Homo sapiens: one gene and its partners. The protein of the gene in region 7 interacts with the protein of the main gene of each other region in a pairwise test. Each region holds a gene or a part of one and is shown on either strand. Other genes may lie near its edges. The genes, in order: CYB5B, TSNARE1, TMEM19, THSD7B, PEX16, SACM1L and SLC71A2.

Evidence for each region.
Region 1: the proteins of SLC71A2 (region 7) and CYB5B interact in binary tests that used the Homo sapiens proteins (3 or more experiments, as listed by UniProt).
Region 2: the proteins of SLC71A2 (region 7) and TSNARE1 interact in a two-hybrid assay, tested with the Homo sapiens proteins (one large-scale study listed by BioGRID).
Region 3: the proteins of SLC71A2 (region 7) and TMEM19 interact in binary tests that used the Homo sapiens proteins (3 or more experiments, as listed by UniProt).
Region 4: the proteins of SLC71A2 (region 7) and THSD7B interact in binary tests that used the Homo sapiens proteins (3 or more experiments, as listed by UniProt).
Region 5: the proteins of SLC71A2 (region 7) and PEX16 interact in binary tests that used the Homo sapiens proteins (3 or more experiments, as listed by UniProt).
Region 6: the proteins of SLC71A2 (region 7) and SACM1L interact in binary tests that used the Homo sapiens proteins (3 or more experiments, as listed by UniProt).

The regions. Positions count from the first base shown.
Region 1 is NC_000016.10:69,455,619-69,459,118, forward strand, and holds part of CYB5B (cytochrome b5 type B), read left to right. Parts: intron 1-3,474; coding exon 3,475-3,500. UniProt on the Homo sapiens protein: Cytochrome b5 is a membrane-bound hemoprotein functioning as an electron carrier for several membrane-bound oxygenases.
Region 2 is NC_000008.11:142,211,580-142,214,881, reverse strand, and holds the end of TSNARE1 (t-SNARE domain-containing protein 1), read left to right. Parts: intron 1-2,568; 3' UTR 2,569-2,802; downstream 2,803-3,302.
Region 3 is NC_000012.12:71,696,082-71,699,581, forward strand, and holds part of TMEM19 (transmembrane protein 19), read left to right. Parts: intron 1-354; coding exon 355-492; intron 493-1,198; coding exon 1,199-1,453; intron 1,454-2,818; coding exon 2,819-3,028; intron 3,029-3,500.
Region 4 is NC_000002.12:136,768,545-136,772,044, forward strand, and holds part of THSD7B (thrombospondin type-1 domain-containing protein 7B precursor), read left to right. Parts: intron 1-3,500.
Region 5 is NC_000011.10:45,912,021-45,914,877, forward strand, and holds part of PEX16 (peroxisomal biogenesis factor 16), read right to left. Parts: intron 2,665-2,857; coding exon 2,584-2,664; intron 2,449-2,583; coding exon 2,296-2,448; intron 2,184-2,295; coding exon 2,111-2,183; intron 1,919-2,110; coding exon 1,799-1,918; intron 1-1,798. UniProt on the Homo sapiens protein: Required for peroxisome membrane biogenesis. May play a role in early stages of peroxisome assembly. Can recruit other peroxisomal proteins, such as PEX3 and PMP34, to de novo peroxisomes derived from the endoplasmic reticulum (ER).
Region 6 is NC_000003.12:45,737,896-45,741,395, forward strand, and holds part of SACM1L (phosphatidylinositol-3-phosphatase SAC1), read left to right. Parts: intron 1-682; coding exon 683-776; intron 777-885; coding exon 886-978; intron 979-1,691; coding exon 1,692-1,749; intron 1,750-3,500.
Region 7 is NC_000009.12:94,444,069-94,447,568, reverse strand, and holds part of SLC71A2 (hippocampus abundant transcript-like protein 1), read right to left. Parts: intron 2,606-3,500; coding exon 2,387-2,605; intron 747-2,386; coding exon 633-746; intron 1-632.

The DNA of each region.
Region 1 (3,500 bases), on a different chromosome or scaffold from region 7:
GATGATCTTGATCTCCTGACCTCGTGATCCGCCCACCTTGGCCTCTCATGTAATTCATGCCTGGGATTACAGGCATGAGCCACCGCGACTGGCCTTTTTGTCATTCTCTTAATCTTATCAAATTGGGTCAGTGCTTATGGTGCGACAAGGATCTGGGAAATTACTCCTCTATGTAGCTGGTGGAAGAGAGAAAAATCTACTTACGGTAGTGCTTCTTCAGTCTTCCTAGACATAAGAGAATGGTGTTTTCTTCTCTCTACCCTTTAGAAGCCTGCTGCTCTAGGTTTCACCACAATGTCCTTGGCTCAGAAAATTGTGTTGAGATAATTGAATATGACTTTAGAATTCACATTGATCTGAGCTTTTCGTTTTACAAACGAGGAAACTGATTTATAACATTGGGCTTGAAGATATTAGATATAATTTTAATTTTGAGCAGCTTTATAAATATTCTATTCAGGTATTACAAAATATTTCCTTTTTCCCTAAAAAGTCCGTCTTTTGTGTTTATATGTATATAAATATATTTATTTATTTTTGAGACAGGGTCTTGATCTGTCCTCCAGGCTGGAGTACAGTGGCACAATCCTAGCTCACTATAGCCTTGAACTCCTGGGCTCAGGTGATCCTCCTGCCTCAGCCTTCCCAGTGTTGGGATTCACCAGATGTGAACCAAGGTGCCCAGCCCTACTTATTTATTTTAGTGGGGAATTAAAGCCTTAATGAACCTTGAACTTGAGGAACCAGTTTTATTTAAACAGTTAATTTCCATGAGTTTTGAGCTAAAGTCAGAGTAGACTTAACAGCAATTTGTTTTAGAACCTATAATACCAAAACTCACAGCAATTTTGTTGTTTGCCAGTGTATTCTAAGCTTTTCGAAGAAAAAGAAGCATGCATATTAATTGCTTGGTAGGGGTTATGCTGGAAGAACTTTGGATTTGATTCACCACTTGTAACTAAAATCATAGTATTGCAATTATTACTTTCCAGGCCAAAGATTGAGAGCATTAAAATCTGGGCATGGACATAACCAGCTAGATATGCCTCAATACCTGAAGGGATAAATTAAAGTCAACTATAAACTGTAAGCTTTTCACTTAAGCATCCATTAGCTTTAGTCTAGTGCTTAGCTGTGGAAATGAAGACTGGGGGGAACTGTGCCTAGGGGAAGGGTGGAGGTGAAGGGAGGTTATGTGTTAATAGAACTTTTTTCATTTCAGTTTAAAAACAAGCGATTTGGTTTATTTCCAAATTTGGCTGAGAGTCCTGGCTGCTAAGAGCTGTGCCTTCAACATCTCTTTGATTATTATGTATTTGATTAAAAGTGGGGTCACTATGGTTTGCATCTACTTGGCTATCAGTATCCTAAAGGGAGTGTATGCCTCTTTCTCTTCTCTTTCCTTTAATGGGTTAGACAGGTTGGTCTTTTTTTTGCGTCCCCAGGGATGGATTGATCTTAAAACAGGCACATTTTGCAGTACTTAGTTCAAAGAACACCATATGTTTTAAGTTATTTATTGTTTAGAAATTTTTACATTTCAGCATAGTACGGTTTTGGCTGTCTTTGTTCTCTTTCTTCTTCAGTTGCTTATTACCTTTTTCTAAGGCTCACCCTACTTAGCAGAGATCCAGGGCTTTTGATTGTAAAAGAGGCTAAAAGCTTTGAAATTTAGAGAATCCATTTATATGAAGTATATGATTTTTACTCTAATTATAGATTAAACATCATAATACATATATTATGCTGTGATGCTCTCATATAAGCCTTTCAAATTATCCCTTTTAAAAATAGTAACTACATTTTTTGTCTATAAATCATTGGTATTTATGTAGCTAAAGCATAAAAGACCATGAACATTTTCTTGATGGAATTCAATTATTTCTCGGTTACTGTAGTGGAATATTTATTTTAAAAGGCAGCATTATAAATTAACTTGATGCACATACTACCATCGCTACCACTCCTACCTTCCGAATCTGTAGATAGTAACATTTGTTGTATTTTTCAAAGATTGACTTGTAACTCATTTTAATTAATCGGATCCTTACTAGACTAGTTGAAATGTCCCAGATAATGATAATCATTAAAGTCTTAAAGAAGTATAGAAGTATGTTAATATGGTTTCTTTAAAACCTTTCGTTTGCCATTTTTCTTGCCTACAGACTAATTTCTTTCAGGTTTGGGGCATGTATTCATTTGCATGACAGTGTTTTGGATATATGAAATTAAAACTCATTTCATGGACTGCTCTAAAGTATATTGGGGCCAATGTGATTGGTTTCTGGAAATTCTTGGAGATTATTGAAAACGGTGGTTAAGCAGAGCTAATATTCCATGTTCATACCCTGATATACTTCTACATTTTGCAAAGATGGTATTTTGGGCAGCAGCAACCTATGCTAAAGGGTTATTGTCCTCTGGCAGTAAGTTAGCAGGCCTTTTGTACTATACAGCTGGTTAATGGAATCAATAACTCGTTTGATACTTGAATTGAGTAAAAAAATTGTAATAACAGCTTTATCGTGATACAATTCACATACCATACAGTTTACCTATTTAAAATGTACAAATCAATGGTTTTTAGTGTATTTACAGAACTGTGCAGTCTATTTTAGAACAATTTCCTCACTCCAAGAAGAAACCCCATATTCATTAGCAGTCGTTTTCCATTTCCCCACAACTCGTCCTCCTCACACCAGCCCTAGGCAACCACTACTAATCTACTTCTAACTCTATTGATTGTCCTGTTGTGAACATTTTATGTAAACAGATTTATATAATATGTAGTCTTTTGTGTCTGCTTTCTTTCACTTAGGATAATGCTGTGAAGTTTGTAGCATATATCAATACTTCAGTACTTTTTATTGCCAAGATTTGTTTTTTAAGATTATTTTATCATTTTCTTTCCCTTGACTCCATTTTTTCTCTTTTCATTGTGAAATCAATTCTAAGGTCTCCTGTCATAATTATTATGATTTCAAGGAGTGAACCAGTATATTTTTGTGATCTACAAGCAATCATCTGTATGATCTAGAGCATTTCACAGTTGATCTACATGTTAGAAGAGCTTTTTGGACTTTAAAAAATGTTTTTAGAAAGTGTGATGTTAGCTATTGCCAGTGGCAAGCCCAGCTGAACCAGGTACATCATCATGACCACAGAGTAGTCCATTTCAATATAGTTTGTATCATTAACATTTTTTAACATCTAAAAAAGTTTAGGTCATTTCTATGCTTTCATTAGTGATTCTTCACTAGGAAGGAACCTAGTGAAGTGCCAGTATGTTATCAGAAATAAAATTCCCAGTCTATCCATTGCTTATATATTTGTAAACACCAAAATGCATGAAAGATGAAGTTCTGGTATCAGTTACAGGGTTGACATAGCTTGATCAAGAAAATGTACATGTGCTATGTTAATCTTCTTTCTTTTTGTTTGTTATTTTTGAATTTTTTTTTTTTTTTATTTCAGGACCCTTCAAAAAATGATACATGCAA
Region 2 (3,302 bases), on a different chromosome or scaffold from region 7:
CTGGAAGTCCCAGATCAGGGTGCCGCCAGGGCTGGGTTCTGATAGGGCCCTTCTGGGCTGCTGAGGGTGACCTCTCCTACATCCTCACGTGGCGGAGGGAGGGCGGGAGCTCTTGGGGCCTGGATCCCACCAGGAGGCTGCACCCTCAGGACCACGGCACTTCCCAGAGGCCCCACCCTTCACAGCATCACCCTGGGGGTTATTTTCGCCTTTGAGTTTTGGAGGAACACAAGCACTCAGACCGTAGCAGGGGCTGGAATGAGGCTGGTTGTGATTTTAAACAGGCCTCACCGAGAGTGGGGTGCAGGGAAAATCATTCCAGCAGAGGGAACAGCCCAGGCCCAGCGCAAGGTAGACCTTGGGCCTGGCAGAGCCCAGAGTTCTGGGCAGGAAGTGAGGGGCCAAGTTTTGGGGATGACTGGAGAACTATCCCGAGGGATCCAGGGACTGGGTGCAGTGGGGCACAGACGGGCACCATCCCAAATCCGGGGTGGCGGGGAGAGGAGGTGGCAGGGGTGGGGCAGCCCCAAGGGGATTCTGGATGTGCCAAGGCCGAGCCCCATGGCGGAATGAAGGGTCCAGGGAGGCCCTGTGGTGTGGATGGGGCCAGGCTGGAGCTGTGGGTGGGGAGCGGGGTCTGCCCTGACTCCAGCTGCAGCCCTGCAGTGGCCGCCCATCCTCCTTTCTGGGTTCCCAGGGCCAGGCGGGCCGCACCCAGCGTCATCGCCTGCTCCCTGGACCTTGGCTATGTCAGAGTCGGCCAGTCCCTGAGCCCTGAGGCCCTCAGACCCTGGCCATGCCTCTTGCCAGCCCTGAGGACCCCCTCATACCAGCTATGGAAAGCCTTGGGGGCAGGACAGGTGTCTCCAGGGACTGGCATTTTGGGGACAATCCTGGAAAGGCCAGGGCTTCCCGGGGGGGCTGGCTCTGATGGGGAGCCCCACAGCACCGGGTGCCTTTTGGGGAGAATCCTGGAAAGGCCAGGGCTTCCTGGGGGGCTGGGCTCTGATGGGGAGCCCCACAGCACCAGGTGCCTTGGCTCAGCTCCGCCCTGCAGGAGCCGCCTGCACATCACGTGGGCCACCTGCTGGGCACCTGGCTCAGCACCCAAGAGGCCCCTCACTGGCCCAGGCCCACAGCCTCACCCTCCCCTCGCCTCCCTGCTTCCTGTGGTAATTGGATTTCGGGGAGCCAGCAGTGAGTGTGCCACCAAGTCCTGAGGGGCCCCCTCCCCAGCTGCCTCCTTCCTCTGCTCCTCCAGAAGGCCCTGGCCTTTTGCTCCTGGCCGCAGGGAGTTTGCCGCCCACAGCCCTGTCTCCAGCTGCCTCTGCCCACGGCCAGGCAACTGGCGTTTGTCCTTATTGGACTTTTATAGGGGTTTTCAGTTTTTTGTTTTGAAAGTAGATTTATTGGTTGTGCAAAAATGATACATGCTTGCTGCAAAAAAGTCATCATGGAAAAGTACAGAGAAGCAGCAACTGCCCCCTTGCCATCTGCCCAAGGCTAGAGGGGCACGTGATGGGGCCTCAGGAGCAAGTGGCCTGCTCCCCAGGAGAGGGGCTGGAGGAGGGGCATTCTCCCCAGCCCCGGAGTCCGCACAGGATTTCCCTGGCAGGGAAGGATTAGAGAGGAGGGGAGGGAGGGCAGAGTCGGAGGGGAGAGAGGGAGGCGGAGGGGGTAGGGAAGGGGGAGAGGAAGAGGGGAGGGAGGGGAGAGAGGGAGGGGAGAGGAAGGGAGGGGGAAAAGGAAGGATTGGAGAGAAGGTGGGGAGGGGGAGGGAGGGAAAAGAGAGGGAGAGTGAGGGAGGGGAGACAGGAAGGTGGAGGGGGAAGGGAGGGGGAGGAGGAAGGATTAGAGAGAGGGAGGAGGAGGGAGGGGGAGGAGGAAGGATTGGAGAGAAGGAGCAGAGGGGGAGGGAGAGGAGAGAGGGAGGAGAAAGGATGGGAGAGAGGGAGGGGGAGGGAGGGAAGAGAGGGACCGGGCAGGAGAGAGGGAAGGGGAGGAAGGATTGGAGAAAGGCGGGGAGGGAGGGAAGAGAAGGAGAGGGGACAGGAGAGGGAGGGACAGGGGGGGGAAGGATTGGAGAGAAGGAGGAGGAGGGGAGAGGGAGGGGCCAGGGAAGAGGTAGGGTCGTCTCGTGGGCTTGGAAGTCAGGTGGAAGCGTGCCCAGGAGAGGGAGGGCCGGTGGGTGCGCCAGGCAGGGCCTGCTGTACTGGGCCTGGGGAGCTCCGGTGGACTCGGGAAGGCTCTAGCTGCAGGAGTCCGCAGCCTGGGCACATGGATGCGGCCAGGAAGGATGGACTGGGCAGGGATGGAGTGCAGGGCAGGGGATGGTGCTGAGCGTGGGGATGGGTGACCGAGGCCTGCGTGGAGCCTGACCAGGGCCAGGAGAGTCTGGTCTGGCCCCTGCAGCTGCAGGTGGCCACTCCCCTCTCAGGGCCCTACCTCCATGGACACTGTCAGCCCCCAGACCAGGCCCAGGTGCTTCCCACCCCACCCTCTGGCACTCTGAGCTCTCCCTGTCACCTGGTCAGGGCCCTGACTGAGCCTCCACTTTCTCATCTGCAGCATCGGCCGCTGAACCGTCAGCTGGCTGTGGTGTGGGCTCTCCAGCCCCGAGCACCCCTCCTGGCCCGGAGCTGGGAGCTGATGGAGTCCGCTGCGTTGTCAGCTGATGCCGTCACTTGGCCTGCAATGGACCCGAGAGCTTCACAGCTGCCTGCTGTCCTCCCCTGCACTGACCCCACTCGCCCCTGTGTCGGCCCCAGCTGAGCACCCGAATAAACCGCTGTGGCTTATCCAGCCACGTGCCTGTCTTCACCTGTCAGGGACCCCTGAGATGAAGCCTGGGTGGGATGTGGATGGGAATGGAGGCCAACAGGACTGCAGGCGGCAGGCTGGGGCTTGCTGGGGAGTGAGTGTGGCTGTGTGTGAGCTTGTGTATGAACATGAACCTGTGCTCACAGCTGGGGAGGGGCATGCTGGGGGCTTTGCTGTGGTGGAGGGGTGGGAAGCTGGCTTGGTGCTGCGTGGAGCCAGGGCACTGCTCCTTGCCTGGGGCTGTCCCAGCCCCCACCAAGAGGGGCTTCCCCGAGGAGGAGGCTGCCTGAGTGGCCTGGAATGCCACACTGAGCCCTTGATGGGCGGAGGTCGTTTGTCTTCCTCCCTGAGGGCCTAGGACAAGCCCTTGCCCCTCCTGAGACCTCAGCTTCCCACTCCGAAAGCAAAGGGCTGGCTTTGGCCCTGGCTGCTCCCAGGCTGTGGCCTCTCTGCTGCTTGCCACCCAGCTCCACGTTGGGGGC
Region 3 (3,500 bases), on a different chromosome or scaffold from region 7:
CAATGCTGGGCAGATTGCTTGAGCCCAGGAGTTTGAGACCAGCCTGGGCAATATAGTGAGACCCCATCTCTATTTCTAATTTTTTTAAATTAAGATAATTTTAAAAATATTATCTAAAATATTATCTTACATTCATATGGCATTGCTTGAAAGGAGATTAAAATATGGTAAAAAATGTGTACTCAAAATGGCATTCAGTTTACTGCTTGCTAAGAATTTAATTGGTAAAATGCAAATTGCTAGAAATGTACATTTCAGGTTATAATATAAAAATAATGGAAAAAATCCATTCTTTTTTCACAGCATTGATGTATGAATTGAATATAATTCTGTGTTTATATATGTTTCTTTCAGGGCTAGTCGTTGGATTTATCCTAACCATTGCAAATTTCAGCTTTTTTACCTCTTTGCTGATGTTTTTCTTGTCTTCTTCGAAACTCACTAAATGGAAGGGAGAAGTGAAGAAGCGTCTAGATTCAGAATATAAGGAAGGTAAAATTATGTTTGATATCATTCAAAATAGTAAACTTCATTTAATCCTAACATAAGGTTTTTTTTTGTTTTTGTTTTTGTTTTTTTTTTTGAGACGGAGTCTTGCTCTGTTGCCCAGGCTGGAGTGCACTGGCGCAATCTCGGCTCGCTGTAAGCTCCGCCTCCCGGGTTCACACCATTCTCCTGGCTCAGCTTCCTGAGTAGCTGGGACTACAGGCGCCTGCAACCATGCCTGGCTAATTTTTTTGTATTTTTAGTAGAGACGGGGTTTCACCGTATTAGCCAGGATGGTCGCAATCTCCTGACCTCGTGATCCGCCTGCCTCGGCCTCCCAAAGTGCTGGGATTACAAGCGTGAGCCACTGCGCCCAGCCAACATAAGCTTTTAATCAGAATGTTGTTTAAACTGTCAAAACACATCAATTTTATATGAGAATTCCTTTAGTAGCCAAATTGAGTTTATAATTTATTTCACAACAATGGGAAATGACAGCAGAATTTTAGAAGCACTAGAGTCTATCATGATTTTTCCAGATTTGTTAATAACAGTATAAAATCTGGGCAAATGTACCATAACACTTTTACTGTTTTTAAATTTTTTTGTTGTTTTTCTTTTCTTAAACTTTAAAACATAAACACCTATAACTGCATGGTTTTTCTTCTAAGGAGGAATCATTTGTTTGTCCTTTTCATCTGTTTGTTTCCAGGTGGGCAAAGGAATTGGGTTCAGGTGTTCTGTAATGGAGCTGTACCCACAGAACTGGCCCTGCTGTACATGATAGAAAATGGCCCCGGGGAAATCCCAGTCGATTTTTCCAAGCAGTACTCCGCTTCCTGGATGTGTTTGTCTCTCTTGGCTGCACTGGCCTGCTCTGCTGGAGACACATGGGCTTCAGAAGTTGGCCCAGTTCTGAGTAAAAGTTCTCCAAGACTGATAACAACCTGGGAGAAAGTTCCAGTTGGTGAGTTTTTTCTTCTTTTTGACCCATTGGTAGACACAGTTGGTGAGTCTTGATTTGAGATTCTTTAAAAAAACCAAAAAACCTCTTGATGTAATGTATTTTAGAGCCTTTTAAGAACTTTATTTAGTCTCTTTAAATAATAATTGGAAAATTTCTGTCGACTATTAAATTGGTAATAATAAATAATATTTGCAGGAAATGTTAGCAAGACCTAGATAAGCAATACAGGAACATAGAGATTGATTTGCAAACATATCAGTAGGGAAGGAAAAGAGAGGGAACAATAGAATATTTATTGAGGGCCTGTTAGGATATCAGTGCTTTAAGATATATCTCAATTCTCCATTATCAACATTATCAACAACTACATAGGTTGAGCATCTCAAATCTGAAAATCCAAAATCCAAAATGCTCCAAAATCTCAAACTTTTTGAACACTGACATGATGCTCACAGGAAATGTTCATTGGAACATTTCAGATTTACGATTTTCAGATTCGGGATGTTCAACTGTTAAGTCTATATAATGCAAATATTCCAAACTCTGAAAAAATTTGAAATCCAAAACACTTCTGGTCTCAAGCAATTCAAGTAAAGAGAATACTCAACCTATACTGCTTCTTTTTGTCCTCTGATGCTTCTCTTCCTCTTCGTCCCCTTCTTTTCTTTCTACCCATCCTATCCCCCATCATCACCTTCTCCTCCTTTTTTTTCTCCTCTTCTTCATCATCATTGTAACAGCTAGCATATTTTAGATACCTACTACAGAGCACTATTCTAACTGCTTTACACGGATTGCCACTTAGTACTCCTAATAATCATATAAATTGGTTCTTTTATTATTTATATCTTATAAAGAAACTAAAGCACAAAGAAGTTAGATAAATTAACTACAGTCACATGGCTTAAGAGTAGCAGAATTGGGCCTGGCAAGGTGGCTCATGCCTGTCATCCCAACTACTAGAGAGGCTGAGATGGGAGGATCACTTGAGCCTGGAGTTGGAGGCTGCAGTAGGCTATGATCACACCATTGTACTCTAGCCTGGTTGATAGAGCAAAACCTTGTCTCTGAAAAGAGAGAGAGAGAGAGAGAGAGAGAGAGAGAGAGAGAGAGAGAGAGAGAGAGAAGCAGAACCAAGATTGAAACCAGGCAGTCTGGCTTCATTGAACCATTCTGCTTCATTGCTTAAAATGTCAAGAGTTACCGAGGAGAAAATACTGTTTTCTAAAAAGCTACAGTCTTTAGATTGCATTAAAGAGAATGCTTTCTTTAAATTAGTCTTGATTAGATAGGTACCTTGCTGTCCTTGCCTTTATGTGTTTGCTGATTATTAACCGGATGATTTTCTGCATGTTTCTTCTTCAGGTACCAATGGAGGAGTTACAGTGGTGGGCCTTGTCTCCAGTCTCCTTGGTGGTACCTTTGTGGGCATTGCATACTTCCTCACACAGCTGATTTTTGTGAATGATTTAGACATTTCTGCCCCGCAGTGGCCAATTATTGCATTTGGTGGTTTAGCTGGATTACTAGGATCAATTGTGGACTCATACTTAGGGGCTACAATGCAGTATACTGGTAAGAACATTCCTTCATTCTTGCAACTTATTGGTATGTTAAAGAAATAGGGAAAAGAAAGAAAAAAATGTTAACAATGAAAACAAATCCAAAGACACAGGGTGTTGAGGGACTAGAAATGATAGGGCAAAGTCTCTTTCACAATTTTGGTTTTCTTATTCTTTTGTATTAAATTAATTGAAAGAGAATTAGTCCCGCGCAGCAATGATTAGAAGCCATGTGGGGAAGATACAATAGTGCAGAGAACAGACGTTTTTGTGTGAGCCATTACCTAATCCCAGAAAAGCAAGACGTTTGGGATCAGATCATTTTAATACAATTCCTTCCATTCATTTTCCTATTCCATTTGAGGAGTAATTGTACAAATCTGACTATACACACGACCTACTTTCTTACTGTGGTATCATGCTTGCTATTCTTGCCCCTGAGTTTTTTGCTTCATTAAGATATATGGTCGATGTCTGGGCACGGT
Region 4 (3,500 bases), on a different chromosome or scaffold from region 7:
AATGATACAATATATTAAATACATGATTAAGACAAACAGATTAAAGAATTCTAAGTAGTGACAACTATATTAGTTGATGGGAAAAAAAGAATAGCACTATTAAGGCTTCAGAGATGCTCTACAGACAAAGCATAAAGGCTGGGTCTTTGAATAACTATTGGGTATTGTATTATCAAAAACTACATGAGTTACTTAGATATGCTGTTGGATTTTTGAATATGGATTGCACATAAGTGCTTCATATTTTCAAAAGAAAATGTTTCCCAGTATATAACTATAAAAGAAGCTGCTTCATTAACTTTAACACCAGGCAGCTTCCTAAATATAACACAGGTCCTTAATTTAGAGCTGTTAACAAGATTAATATCTAAGTGATAATTAGCACGTTAAACCTGTGAAAGTAGAGGGATTTTTAACTCCACTTCTAGTCTAGAAATTTACTATTGTGAATTTTAGTGGGGTCTGTAGTTTAACAGATCTAAAATCACAGGCACCTGTGCTCCAAGATGATAAGCATTCTATTCCCACCCTTTAAAACTTCTCCATCTACCGAGATTATTTTGTGGACGTTTTAGTAGGATGTTCATGGGTGGTTATTCTTGAGAGCTAACAGTGGCTATTTTTGAAATGAAGCCAAGGAGGATTAGGTAGTTTTTGGTCATCTTGTAAGTATCTCTTGACAAAAGGAAATAGGAATCCCAGCCACTGAATTCCTACATTTATGCTTTCATTCTAAGCCATGAATCCTGGTATGGGCTAGTTATACAAAATATAGAGACGTAGTTATTTTGCCAGGTTATAGTCCACCGGTGATTTAGTATGATCATTTTGTTGCTACCACATCAAGCATTTCATTTGAAAGGGAAAATCAGATATTAGTGAAACCCAATTACTCCGTATCTTTTGGTAAAACTTTGAAACTAACTCTAGAGATGCTGTAGAATAGTTTCACTGCTGGTAGGGACTCATGCTTTTGGTAACAGGAGTTGAATCTAAGCGTGGTTTGTAAGCTGAACAATGAAGTCATCTGGCATCTATAAGAACTACTTTAAGTGTGTATATACTGTTGTGATGACTAAAACACAGTATGTATAAAAGCATCGCTAAATTCATATTAATTTTTGGTTACTAGGTATTTTTGCAATTTATGGATTCTAAAAACACAACTCTTTGCTGTGATGTGGAAATCAGTAGAATTTTTTGACGTTAAAAAGAAGAGGTCCACCTACTAGAAAAGGTTAGACATTGACCTAGATGTGGAGATCTGTGAAAGTGTGAAAATGTTTCCTGCATGAATAAAAAAGGCTATCATTGTTGAACTTAGGTGTTTTGCAGCAAGGGACATGATGCTCGCTTTTGATTTTGCCTTTCTGGGCATATTTTAATTATGAGCCTCTTGTAATTAAACATGCCATAGCTAAAAACAGAATCCTAAGTAACTAATGCACAAACGATTTTTCAATGCCTTGACTTGGAAGAAACTCATGGCCGTGTTCCACTTGCCTGCATGAGGGCTGGCTGCTGATTTGTGTCCTAGTGTTATGTTAGCGAACAGCTCATTACTTCTGGAAAAATCACAATGTTGAGTAAGGCTCTGAACTTCGTGGCAGTTAGGCACGATTGCCTTAGTCTTAGACTGCAGCTTTGTAGCAATGCATATTTTAATTTTGAGTTCTTTCAGATGGTTATTTTAAAAAGCATACCATGTAGTATGCATACATGAAAGATTTTAATTATAATAAGACTAAGGCTTGCAGTAATCTCTTCTTGCAGAGTTTGCTTCTGGGCTCTCCTCTATTGATTTTTGCCTTTTGTGCTTACGTTAGACTTATTCAGGGCAAGTTAGACAGGGCACATGAATACAGCCTTACTGGTAAAAATATTGAACTATTTGTAAAATATTGAAATACTTGTAAAAATATTGAAATACATGTGCTCCAGTAGGTCAATGAGTATTGCTCTGAGCCCTCTGAAGGTCCCACTATCATCCTGGTCCTACAGACCACTCCCCTTAGATCACTTCTTGAGAGAGCCACTGGGTGTCACCCACCTGGTATGGCAAAGAGGCCTTGGGACACACTCCAGTGATATTACCTAAGGCTGTTCTGATTGGCTTATGCCCCAGACCTACCAACTGGTAAATATTTTAAATATTATCCCTTGATATTTGTACTCGTGACAAGAATGAATGCAATCATTGGCATTATCAAGTAGTTGAACATCAAATGTTTACATTTTAATTTTCTCTGTGTCTAATATTTCTGGCTGTTAAAACACTTAAATATTGTTATCTTTATATTATCTAGGAGCCCAAAGGTATCAAAACCCCTTTCATCTGAGTTATCAATTCATATAAAGCCACTCTAACTTCAATTTAATTTGTTTTCTTAGAAAATATAAAATAAGGATATTAAGTTCCTTCCTTCCTGTTAAGAGGAAGAGCCAAATTTCTCACCCAGGTCATCTGCCACAACTGTAAATTCTTCTACCTCACAGCTGTCTCAGACCACTTAATTAAAATGTATGTATGTGGGAGTAGTTCAACAAGGCTTCTTTCTTTTGGGGAAAAAGTAATTATTTTTTTTCAATCTCTGTTTCTAGTCTTCAGAATTAACTCAATTTATTTCATATTGACTTCCATTCACTTTTGTGATTAAATATTGTTAGTAGGGCTTTCATTTCATCTGACTTGACCCATTCTATGAACTGGAATATCTTCTGGCCAATCACAGAGAGGCAAGGGATGTTAATGACTTTGAGTAAAATTTTTTGGTGCTTTCTTCTGGATCTCTTCTAGCTAAAACTAAACTCCAGCACTGCTAGATGGTCCCTGAAAAACGTAACTTAAATTATGCTTATTTCTTGAACAGAAAAAATAGGATTCCAGATACTACATCAATTTAACTCTTGCCTGTCGTTAATTTCCTATTATCCACTTTCTTCTTCTTTTAGACCTATCTCTTTAAAGTCACCCACAAGACTCACACTTATTTAAAGTGGCCAAAAATGTTGCTTTCCCTACTCCTGTGGTCCCAGTTATCCAAATTATATCTATTAGTCAAAATCCAGTTCCAATTATACTTCCACTGAGCTTTCACTGATGATGCCAATTCACAAAGCCCTCTCTCAGTCTGAACAACTCAGGTGGTAAATTCTAATTTTCATGTTTGATTGAATCTATTTTCTTATTAGCATCTATGTGTGGAGTTCTGATAGTAAAGGATTTAAATGGTGAAGGGCACCACTCTCTACTGAGAATTCTGGAAAATGTTGAAGAGGGGAGTGTGATGGAGAGTAGGGGCCTGGGTAATAACAGCCATTTGAGGATCTGTAAGGTAAGGCTTACCAATATCCAGGTAGGCAACAAGTGTGACTAGTAATTATTACTATTAGTTAATTACCTATGAATTGCTGCATACCTAGCTAGGTACATTAGAATTTGTTTGTCTAATCCTCATAATAATGTTGCAAAGTAGGTACTGTTATTTAGTCCCTTTTTT
Region 5 (2,857 bases), on a different chromosome or scaffold from region 7:
TCCCAAAAAACAAAAGAAAAGAAAAGAAGAAGGCTGGCTGGGTGCAGTGGCTCCACCTATAATCCCAGCACTTTAGGAGGCCAAGGCGGGCCTTTGTTTCCCTAAAGGACAGGGAGCAGGGTCCAGAGAGGTGCCAGGGTGTGGTCCAGAAGGAGCAGCCTTACTCTTTTTTCTGTTTTAAAAAAAAGATGGGTCAGGCCAGGCGCGGTGGCTCACGCCTGTAATCCCAGAACTTTGGGAGGCCGAGGCAGGCGGATCACGAGGTCAGGAGATCGAGACCATCCTGGTTAACACGGTGAAACCCCATCTCTACTAAAAAATCAAAAAAAATTAGCCAGGCATGGTAATGGGCGCCTATAGTCCCAGCTACTCAGGAGTTGAGACAGGAGAATGGCATGAACCCGGGAGGCAGAGCTTGCAGTGAGCCAAGATTGCACCACTACACTCCAGCCTAGGCAGGCAACAGAGCCAGACTCCATCTCAAAAACAAACAAACAAAAAAAGACAGTGTCTCGCTCTGTCACCCAGACTGGAGTGCAGTCGCGCGATCTCGACTCACTGCAACCTCTGCCTCCTGGGTTCAAGCGATTCTCCTGCCTCAGCCTCCTGAATAGCTGGGACTACAGGCGTGTGCCATCACACCTGGCTAATTTTTGTATTTTTAGTAAAGACAGGGTTTCACCATGTTAGCCAGGATGGTCTCTACCTCCCGACCTTGTGATCCGCCCGCCTCGGCCTCCCAAAGTGTTGGGATTACAGGTGTGAGGCATCGTGCCTGGCTAAACTATGCCAGTTTTGTTTTTTTTTTTCTGTTTTGTTTTTTTGAGACAGGGACTTACTCTGTCACCCAGGCTAGAGTGGGATGGAGTGATCATAACTCACTGCAGCCTCAGCCTCCTGGCCTGATCCTCATGCCTCAGCTTCCTGAGTAGCTAGGACTTACAGGCGCACACCACCATGTCTGGCTAATTATTATTATTTTTTTTTTTTTTTTGTAGAATTGGGTTGCCCAGGCTGGTCTCGAACTCCTGGCCTCAAGCCAACCTCCTGCCTTGGCCTCCTAAAGTGCTAGGATTATAGGTGTGAGCCACTGCTGCCCAGCCTATGCCAGTTTTTAAGCTATTATTAGGTCCTAGACAAAGGGGGTCCCGGGAGCCTTGTCTGCCTCACAGTCCCAGCCACTGCACAGGGTTTCCCCCTGTCAGACTGTGGTCTAACCTCAAGCAGTCATAGTGGCAGGCCTGTGGAAGAACTAGTCCCAAGCTGCCCCCTGCTCAACCCAGCAGGCCTCTCTCAGGCTGGGAGCTCTGGACCCTCGCAGGTGACTGAGTGGGGGCTGGGCCAGGCAGGGAAGGCCAGGGGAGATCCTGGGTTTGGGATCTAGCTCTACCACTGGCTAGCTGGGTGTCTTTAAGTTGCCCAACCTCCTTGAACCTCCAGGTCCTCCTCTGAGAAGTGAGGATAAGCCAAACTATTTGGCAGGAAGAAGTGGAAATGAGCTAGAGGCCATGGGCGCCCGCCCTGTCGCCATCCCTGTGGGCCACCTGGCAATGCCCTCAGCCCTGCCCTCAGTGCCTCTCCTGCCAACCAATGTTTAAGTTCCTGCTCAAGTGGCCTGATGGCCCAGAGAGCTCTGCGGGCGGGACTGGGCTGGCATCTGGTGACTGCCACCCGGACAACACACAGTGCTTGGTGAACCCTGGATGAGGCGTGGGGAAGGGAAGGCGCCAGCAGGGACCGGAGCACCAGTGCCCGCTTGCCAGCCCTCTCCCTGGCTCAGGGTGTCCTGGGTGCTTACTCGGAGAAGCGGTCATAGAAAGGAGAGCGCAGCAGGTAGTAGAGCAGCAGGATGGTCCGGCGCCGCAGCTCCCGCCGCTCCCTCCGGGTCAGGCCCTTTCTGTCACTCAGGAGGCTCAGGCTGGGAGGCAGGGAGGACATGGTCAGGGCCAGGGGCATGATCTAGGCCCACGGAAGGGGAGGAGCCATGGGCTGGGTGTCCAGAGGGGCAGCAACAGGAGGAGCAGGGGCCGCTGCCACCCCGCCTATGTGAGGCCAGGATTATAGCAGAAAGCCCAGTGGAGAGTGAAGCCCCAGGCAGGCCCAGGCTCACCTGGTCACGTCCACAACACCAGCCAAGAGCCAGGGTTTCCACGACCTCTGACCCCACAGGCCCAGGCTGAGCACTGACGGCCAAGGCGTCAAGGATGTCTCCAGCACAGGGGCCTTGCTCAGCACACTCCCCACTCAATCCCCAGCCCACAGTGCCAGCCCTATCCTGCCCCGCGCTAAGGATACAGTGCAGCAGCGGCCGGGCAATGTACAAAAACTCTGCGATGGTCTCCTGCAGCCCCAGGGGGGTGGGGGTCGCACTCAGCTCCTCGTGATGCTGCTGCTGCCGTCCCTCCCGCTGCTGGGGAGCTCCCCAGTGCCTGGAGTGCAGGGACGGCGCTAGAACACAAGGGCGGCAGATGAGCGAGCCAGGCCCAGGCTGGGGCAGGGGAAGGTGGCTGCTGACCAAAGCCAGTCCCTCAAGCCCAGGCAGACAGCACCTAGGTGCCCAGGCCAGCCACATCCTCCACTTACTGTTCTGGAGGGTTCGCACCACCCGGTTTGACCGCTTCCCCACGTAGGACTGCTCATGGTTGCCAGGGCTGTGGTCACCATCTAGCAGGGATAGACAGAAGGCCATACAGTCAGAGGGACATGCTTCCAGCGGAGCCTGCAAAGAACGTGTGCAGTGAATGCTCAGGAGCTAAGGGGAGAACAGATGAGCTTGTACTATGGCAACAGCTGAGTCAAGGGAACTACAAGCAGGGTGGCGGCTCAGCACAAGACCCGTCCACAGAGGAAAGCACTC
Region 6 (3,500 bases), on a different chromosome or scaffold from region 7:
TGCTTTTAAAAATCACCTGGGCAGCTTTCAGACAGCAGCAGCAACAACAGCAAGACTCCAGCATCTGGGCCTCACTTGAGACCTGTGGAGTCAGGATTTCTGGGAAGTGAGGCCCGGGTACTGGTGTGTTCTTAGCCACCCTGGGAGATTCTGATGCTTGGGGAGGGTTGAGAGCCACCGCTCCACAGTGCTCCTCAGACCTTACCGTGTACCTGAAGCACCAGTCTTGAGATGTGCTCTAAAAAGCACCCAGGTGATGCTGATGCTGCTTTCAAAGACTGCACTGAGTAATGAGGACATTAATGAGAACATTTTGAATGTATTATGCATGCAGTGGCTCTTTTTCTGCTATGTGGGTTCCCTGGGAGCAGAATAAGATTTCTAGTCTGTTTGCTTTGCTGTGTCCTACCACTTAACCTGGGCTATGTATTTCTCTTCATATTTCTTGTCTTTGCAACTGGAATTAGTGTGTTTCTTTGTGCCTCCTTTGGTAATATTTTAGAAAGAAAATAGGTATTTCTTGGACCTACAAGTGATTTCTTTTGTGAAGTATCTGTATTTTCAGGGATAGTTTTTAAAATCTGTCACTCACTTATTTCTATACCTTATGCTTATTGGCCATAAAACAGTGTGAGAATTCAGTGTACAAACCTGTAACTTAAAATTTAACCTCTTTAACCAGAACTGGAAAGAGAACTCATTTGGGACTTATAATGGATGGCTGGAACTCAATGATACGATATTATAAGAACAACTTTTCCGATGGATTTAGACAAGTAAGTTTGTATTTGATGCTTTCCTGGCATTACGTGGTTGTATCTTTGCATTGTTCATCACTAATGTTATCTCACACTGAGTTTACGAATTTCTTCCTTTCTGTTCTAGGATTCCATAGACTTATTTCTTGGAAACTATTCAGTGGATGAATTAGAATCTCATAGTCCTTTAAGTGTTCCAAGGGACTGGAAATTCCTGGCTGTAAGAAACCATTTTGTATTTTTCAAGTTTTTAAAAGCATTGTGTCTGAAGGTATAGATGGTTTCAGTCTCAATTTAAAACGTTATATGTGGTTTTATATTTCATTACATGAAATATAAATACTTAAGTTTTCCAAAGAGGTCAGGCTGAGGAGTACAGTAACTGTGGAGCATTTGTTTTCTTTTCCTCAGACTCTCACACATCCTTTTCATGTGAAGTAACATAAGCAAAGGGAATGTGGAAGCTTTCTCATTTCAGGAAAACTTCAATTCTCTTACATTGAGGGAATTGCCAGAGACAAACGTGTTACATGGAAGGCAAAGTTTATTTTTGATGCTTCTCTCCTTTTTGACTCCTCTGTTCACCAGACCCTGCAAGAGCCGCTCTGGATTTTCTTTCCAGTGTGTCAAGTGCTCTGGAATGGAAGGGAGGCCTAGTGTTCTAGGTCCTCATCTGGGCATCCTCCTTCCATTTAGCACCCTTTGGCTTGGAGCAAAAGCATGCTTCTTCCGATCTTACCACATCCCCCATCTAAAGTCTAGGGCAGTTGTGATTGAACCCATAAATAATAATGTTTTGTTGACAAAAGATATTAGCTGTGTATTAGCTGACAGATGAGTTTTATTCTTTTCCCAAGCAATGCATGCACAACTGATTTTGCTGCCATTGATTAGCATTCTTAAATGATGATCTCTTTCTATTGTCTTTTCCAGTTGCCTATTATCATGGTTGTTGCCTTTTCAATGTGCATTATCTGTTTGCTTATGGCTGGTAAGTCTGCTCCACACATTTGTTTCTTAGTTAGAATGTTGACCTTTCTTTTACAACATCTTAAGTTTTTGAGTTCACCGAACACTTGATGTTTCCCTATTAAATTTAATGGGTAAAGTGGATGTGACATTAGATTGTCATTAGATGTGACAGGAAGAAAAATAACATACCTAGTAGTTTGATGGTTGTCGTTTTTTTTAACCTCAGATTTTAAAAACATGTTTTTCTTATTACTGTAAACCAATGAGTGTCTGAGACAGGTCTCAGTCAGTTTAGAGGCTTAATTTGCCAAGGTTGAGGACCTGCCCAGGAAAAAGAGACACAAGATACAGTAGGATCAGTATCTTGTGCTTTTTCCAAAGAGGGTTTTAAGGACTTCAGTATTAAATGGGGAAAGAGTGTACAGGAGAGGAAGGAGGAATGGAAACAAAAGGGGAGGGTAGGTAGTAAGATAAGTGGTCACATTCTTGTGAGGCTTTGATTAGCACTCACTGAATCCATGTTACATGTGAAAGGACGGGGTAGAGGAACAGTCAATTATGCATTCATCTCCTGCTCAGTAAATCTGCATTTTATGTAAGACAAAGTAAACATAGAGTAGATAAAGAAGTCAGATCTGCATTTGTTTTGGGGTGGGCGGAGGGATGATTTTCTAGTCTTGTCTTTGTCCCATACCTGTGAAAATAAACTGTTAATTTACATTGTCAGGGTGAGGGAGATTCAACAGGACTGTCTTTTAGGGTAAAGATTTTGGGGCCCACAAGGAATTTGCTTGTGACAGTTTGTGAGGGTGGCCATCTGTGAGGATATGTGGCCCACTATCTTTGCAGCTGTCTACTTAGGAACAAAAGGAGGGTAGTTTTGTGAGACTCAGTTCCCAAGTTTAACTTTTTCCTTTGGCATAGTAAATTTGGAGTCCTGAGATTTTATTTTCCTTTCACATTACCAAAGTAATACATAGTAATTATAGAAAGCACACGTAGGCAGAAAAGGAGAAAATATTATTTATCATCATACCTTTGAGAGAGAAGCTAACCACTCTTAACATTTTGATGTTTTAATCTTTATAAGTGTCTGTGATTTTTTTTCAAAAGTGAGATACGTATTTTCATTATCTGCTTTTTTTCACTGAGCAGTATGTTTTCCCATGTTCTTAATTGCTAATGGCTGCAAAGTATTCCATTTATGGATGTATAGTTTAACCAACTCAAATAAATGTTAATGGATTAAGATATTACTTATCATTACATTTTAAAGGTTGAGAGTAAAATTGCCTGAGAACCTGAGGAGACAAGGTCTTTACTGGTTTTCTTTTTTCTCTTAATATTTTGCTATGTTACTGAGTTAATAAAGCATTTAAGATTAAAGTGAGAAGAATGTATTCTTTATTCTCCTTTGAGTAATGTCCTGTAATTTGGAGGTTTGAGTCTGAGACTTGGTGTATTGGACGTTGGAGATGCAATCCTAGTCACTCTGAAAGAAGAGGCACCTTCCAGCCTTCATCCTCTATCCTGAATTCGTTGAGCCAACCTCTCTCTGCCTGTCTGAATTCCACCATCCTCAGGGCACCATTCATATGCTCCCCTCTCACAGAGTGTCTCTCCCACACAGAAGTCTTCACCTTCTGTCTGGATTTCCACAGCACTCCTGGTCCTCTCTCCCAGCACTTTCCTCTTTTAACCTCATTAATACATAGGGAGTTATTTTTCAGAGGTGGTATACCTCTTTGGTGTACCTGACATACCCAGTGT
Region 7 (3,500 bases):
GAAATCTCTATATCTTACTCTCAATTTTGCTGTGAACCTAAAACTGTTCTAGAAAAATAGTCTATTTAAAAAAAAAAAAAAAAAAAACAGGCTGGGCACAGTGGCTCACGCCTGTAATCCCAGCATTTTGGGAGACCGAGGCGGGTGGATCACTTGAGGTCAGGAGTTCGAGACCAACCTGGCCAACACGGTGAAACCCTGTCTCTACTAAAAATACAAAAATTGGCTGGGCATGGTAGTGCACGCCTGTAATCCCAGCTACTCGGGAGGCTGAGACAGGAGAATCGCTTGAACTCAGAAGGTAGAGGTTGCAGTGAGCCAAGATCGTGCCATTGCACTCCAGCCTGGTGGACAAGAGCAAAACTCCGTCTCAAAAAAAAAAAAAGATAAATTATGTTTCTGCTAATTCTGGTTAATTCTCAAGAAAAAAAAATTTCCACAGTAATTATCTTACTATAAATCATTGCATTAAAGGTGCCCTGTTTACTAATTATATGCCAGCACCTACATTTGTAACTAGAAGCAAGTTCACATGTTTTTTCCTCTGCAGTGGTTTCCTCAAAATATCTTTAGACAAATCTCCATCTTTGATTTTCCTGGTATTGAAAGGCTACTAGCCACTCACTACTCACCTGCCTGAGATAGAGAAAAAAACTTGAATACTGTCCAGCTTCAGGAAGGTATGAAAGAAACACGGTGATGCAGATTAGTAAGACAGTAGAATCTTTTCCAACTTTCTTCAACGACTGAGAATAAGCAGAAAGAACACACTTAAAATGCCAATACACATTAATGTTGCCAATGTTCTGGGACATCAGCTTCATTATTTTGATCTATTAAGATGAATAACAAAAGTCAAATGGTTAATAAAAGGAAGTTCTATCACCATCTTTCTGAGGAAGTTACAAGTCTTAATTTCAGAGGTATATATTTCAAATCATATAGCTAAAAAAAAAAGCAAAAAAATAAACCCACAAAACACACTTACTCATCTTTGTTAACACACTGATTAAAATCCCTGAACAGATCCCGAACTTCCTATAAACAGAACCTGGAAATATATTCCTACAGAACCTTTTAAGAAAATCACTTCTCTCAATTCATAATGTAACTTCTTTAAAGCCATATTCAGTACAGAGCGTTTCCGTATAGGTAAATTCACTCTATTCTTCAAAGTGTTCATGTTCAACTTTTATATCTGGTAGACAAATAAGTACGCTCCAGCCATAAGGTCAAACTGGTAAGAACTTGTTGAATGTTACAACCTTGTTGAAAAATCCTTCTTACATACATTGGATTGTTGAATAGAACAAAATGGTAAGTTAATACCAAAGGAGTGGAAAGTGCTACAGAGCTTCTAGCTCATCAGACCATAGCTTTTATGTAATTAATAAGCAAAAGCAGCTAATGTTGTTGAGACTTTGCTGGGCAACAGACACTAGGCTAGTTAATTTACACACATTAACAGTAATCCCCACGATTGCCCGGAAAAGTAAGCCACAGTAGCTCTACTTCACAGAGGAGCTTTGATGCATAACTTGATCACTACAAAGGAAGGTGGGAAGCCTAACTGGCTGGCTCCCAACCCCACTACTGGCTTCCTTCTCTAAATATTTCTTTTGGTGTCTGACATTGTGACAATAATAGAACAGGCAGGATCCCTAGGTCATGCCCTCAGGGGGTATTTTAGAAAAAGTAATTTCTGATTGATTACATGAATTTTTCTGAAAGGTAAACTTGGGGGACGAAAAGCAGAAACCAAACTGCTGGTTCTTTTTTTGTCTACAAACTTTTTTTTTCCCCAAGAACAATTTCAAACCAGGTAGGGTAGAGAGAAGGTGAGAGATAAGATATGTTTTCCAGTGACACACCACCTTCCCATGCCAAAAAAGAAGGGGGTGGAAAAGGAGAGGAAAGGGAGGGAGGTAGAGAGGGAGAGAGAGACATATTATAGAAAACAATACTCAATCTGTAACAAACAAATTAAACGTCTCTGGTCAAAATTAAAATAACTCATTCAAACCAAAGGCATTTATCCTTTTTGAGTTAAAATGAGTGAAAATGACCACTTCAAATGACCACTTTCACTTATTTTGTTTAAAAAGGATGAAAACAACCATGCAAAAAGAAACTCTCTTCCCAAACTCTCACCAAGAATTAACTAGACATTTTCTCTCTCTTCGTTTATGACATGCTTAAGTACCAATTCTATATATTTCTTAATACAAAGACTAACTCAATCCCTTACTTGCAATTAATTTTTTCTATTTTTACTAAAGAAATAAGTCAACAACTGCTAGGATCCTTGAGGCTGCACATACATACTTTCATTTGCTTGGCTTAGAAAGACATTTAGGAAAGTAAATATTTCCATATTTTTATTTACCGCAAAAGGGTCTGCTTGTTTCCAAGAAATCTGAGCTCCCCAGGAAACCGGTCTCATTTTCTCAGGCAGAGATTCTGGAACAGCCACTAAGATGAAGCAGATGTCCAGAAGAGCCACCACTGTGGCCACCAGCACAACGAGGCTGTCTCCGTAACTGGCAGAAAGATATGCTCCAATGGCCGGGCTGCTGACAAGACTAGCCGCAAAGGTGGCTGAGACCTGTGGGAAAGCACACTCTCACCCAGGGTCCCATAGGTGAACACCTCTGGGGAAAGCATATCCTTACCCAGGTCTGCCTGCTGCAGGTGCACACCTTCAGGAAAGCACACTCAACCAGGGTCCCACAGGTGCATACCTGCAGCCATGCTTCCCTGGCTTTAAGTAAGACAAAAGAAATGTGTTGCATATAAATTTTAAGAATGAAAGAGAATTAAAGTGATTTAAGAATGTGTTCATAAACTATTAACTGGAGATACCCTGCAGAGCTACAAGAGTAAAAAAGGATTATCTTATTACAAACAAAAATTGTAAAAACCTTCCCCACAAATAAAACATTAGCTCTTTGGTCTTCTTTAACTGGGGACCGGGGATGTGAGATGGTATGAAAAGAATTCCTGCAGGGCTGATGATAAAACTTACAAACTACTCAAGTACTGTGCTTGATTTAATCTTCTAAAAACACTGCACTGTTTGAACATTTTATCATTTGGTGGTCATTTCATTAGCACTGCCTGGGGTCAGGGGGAACCCTCTGCTATTCTTAGAAAAAAACTATTAACAACAACAAAGAATTTGTTGAGGTGGAAGTTGAAGCTTTTTGACTAGACAGCTGTAGATTTCTGTCTCTCTGTCACCACCTGACCCTATCCAGTATAGAGACCACAGAGCCAGCTAAGCACACCCACAACCTGAAGCCACCTTGAGCCCCTTCACAGTGCACTCCTATAAGCATGTGGAATGTCCACTTTATTTTAGAACACAATCTGGATGGTCAGATGCTTATCGGGCAAACTCCAAATTATAACCACACTAAATGTCAAATGCATATCTATAAGTTAGCTTTTTAAACTTCTAATGGATTTTATTAAAAATCCCAAAATTTCTGGCAATAAAA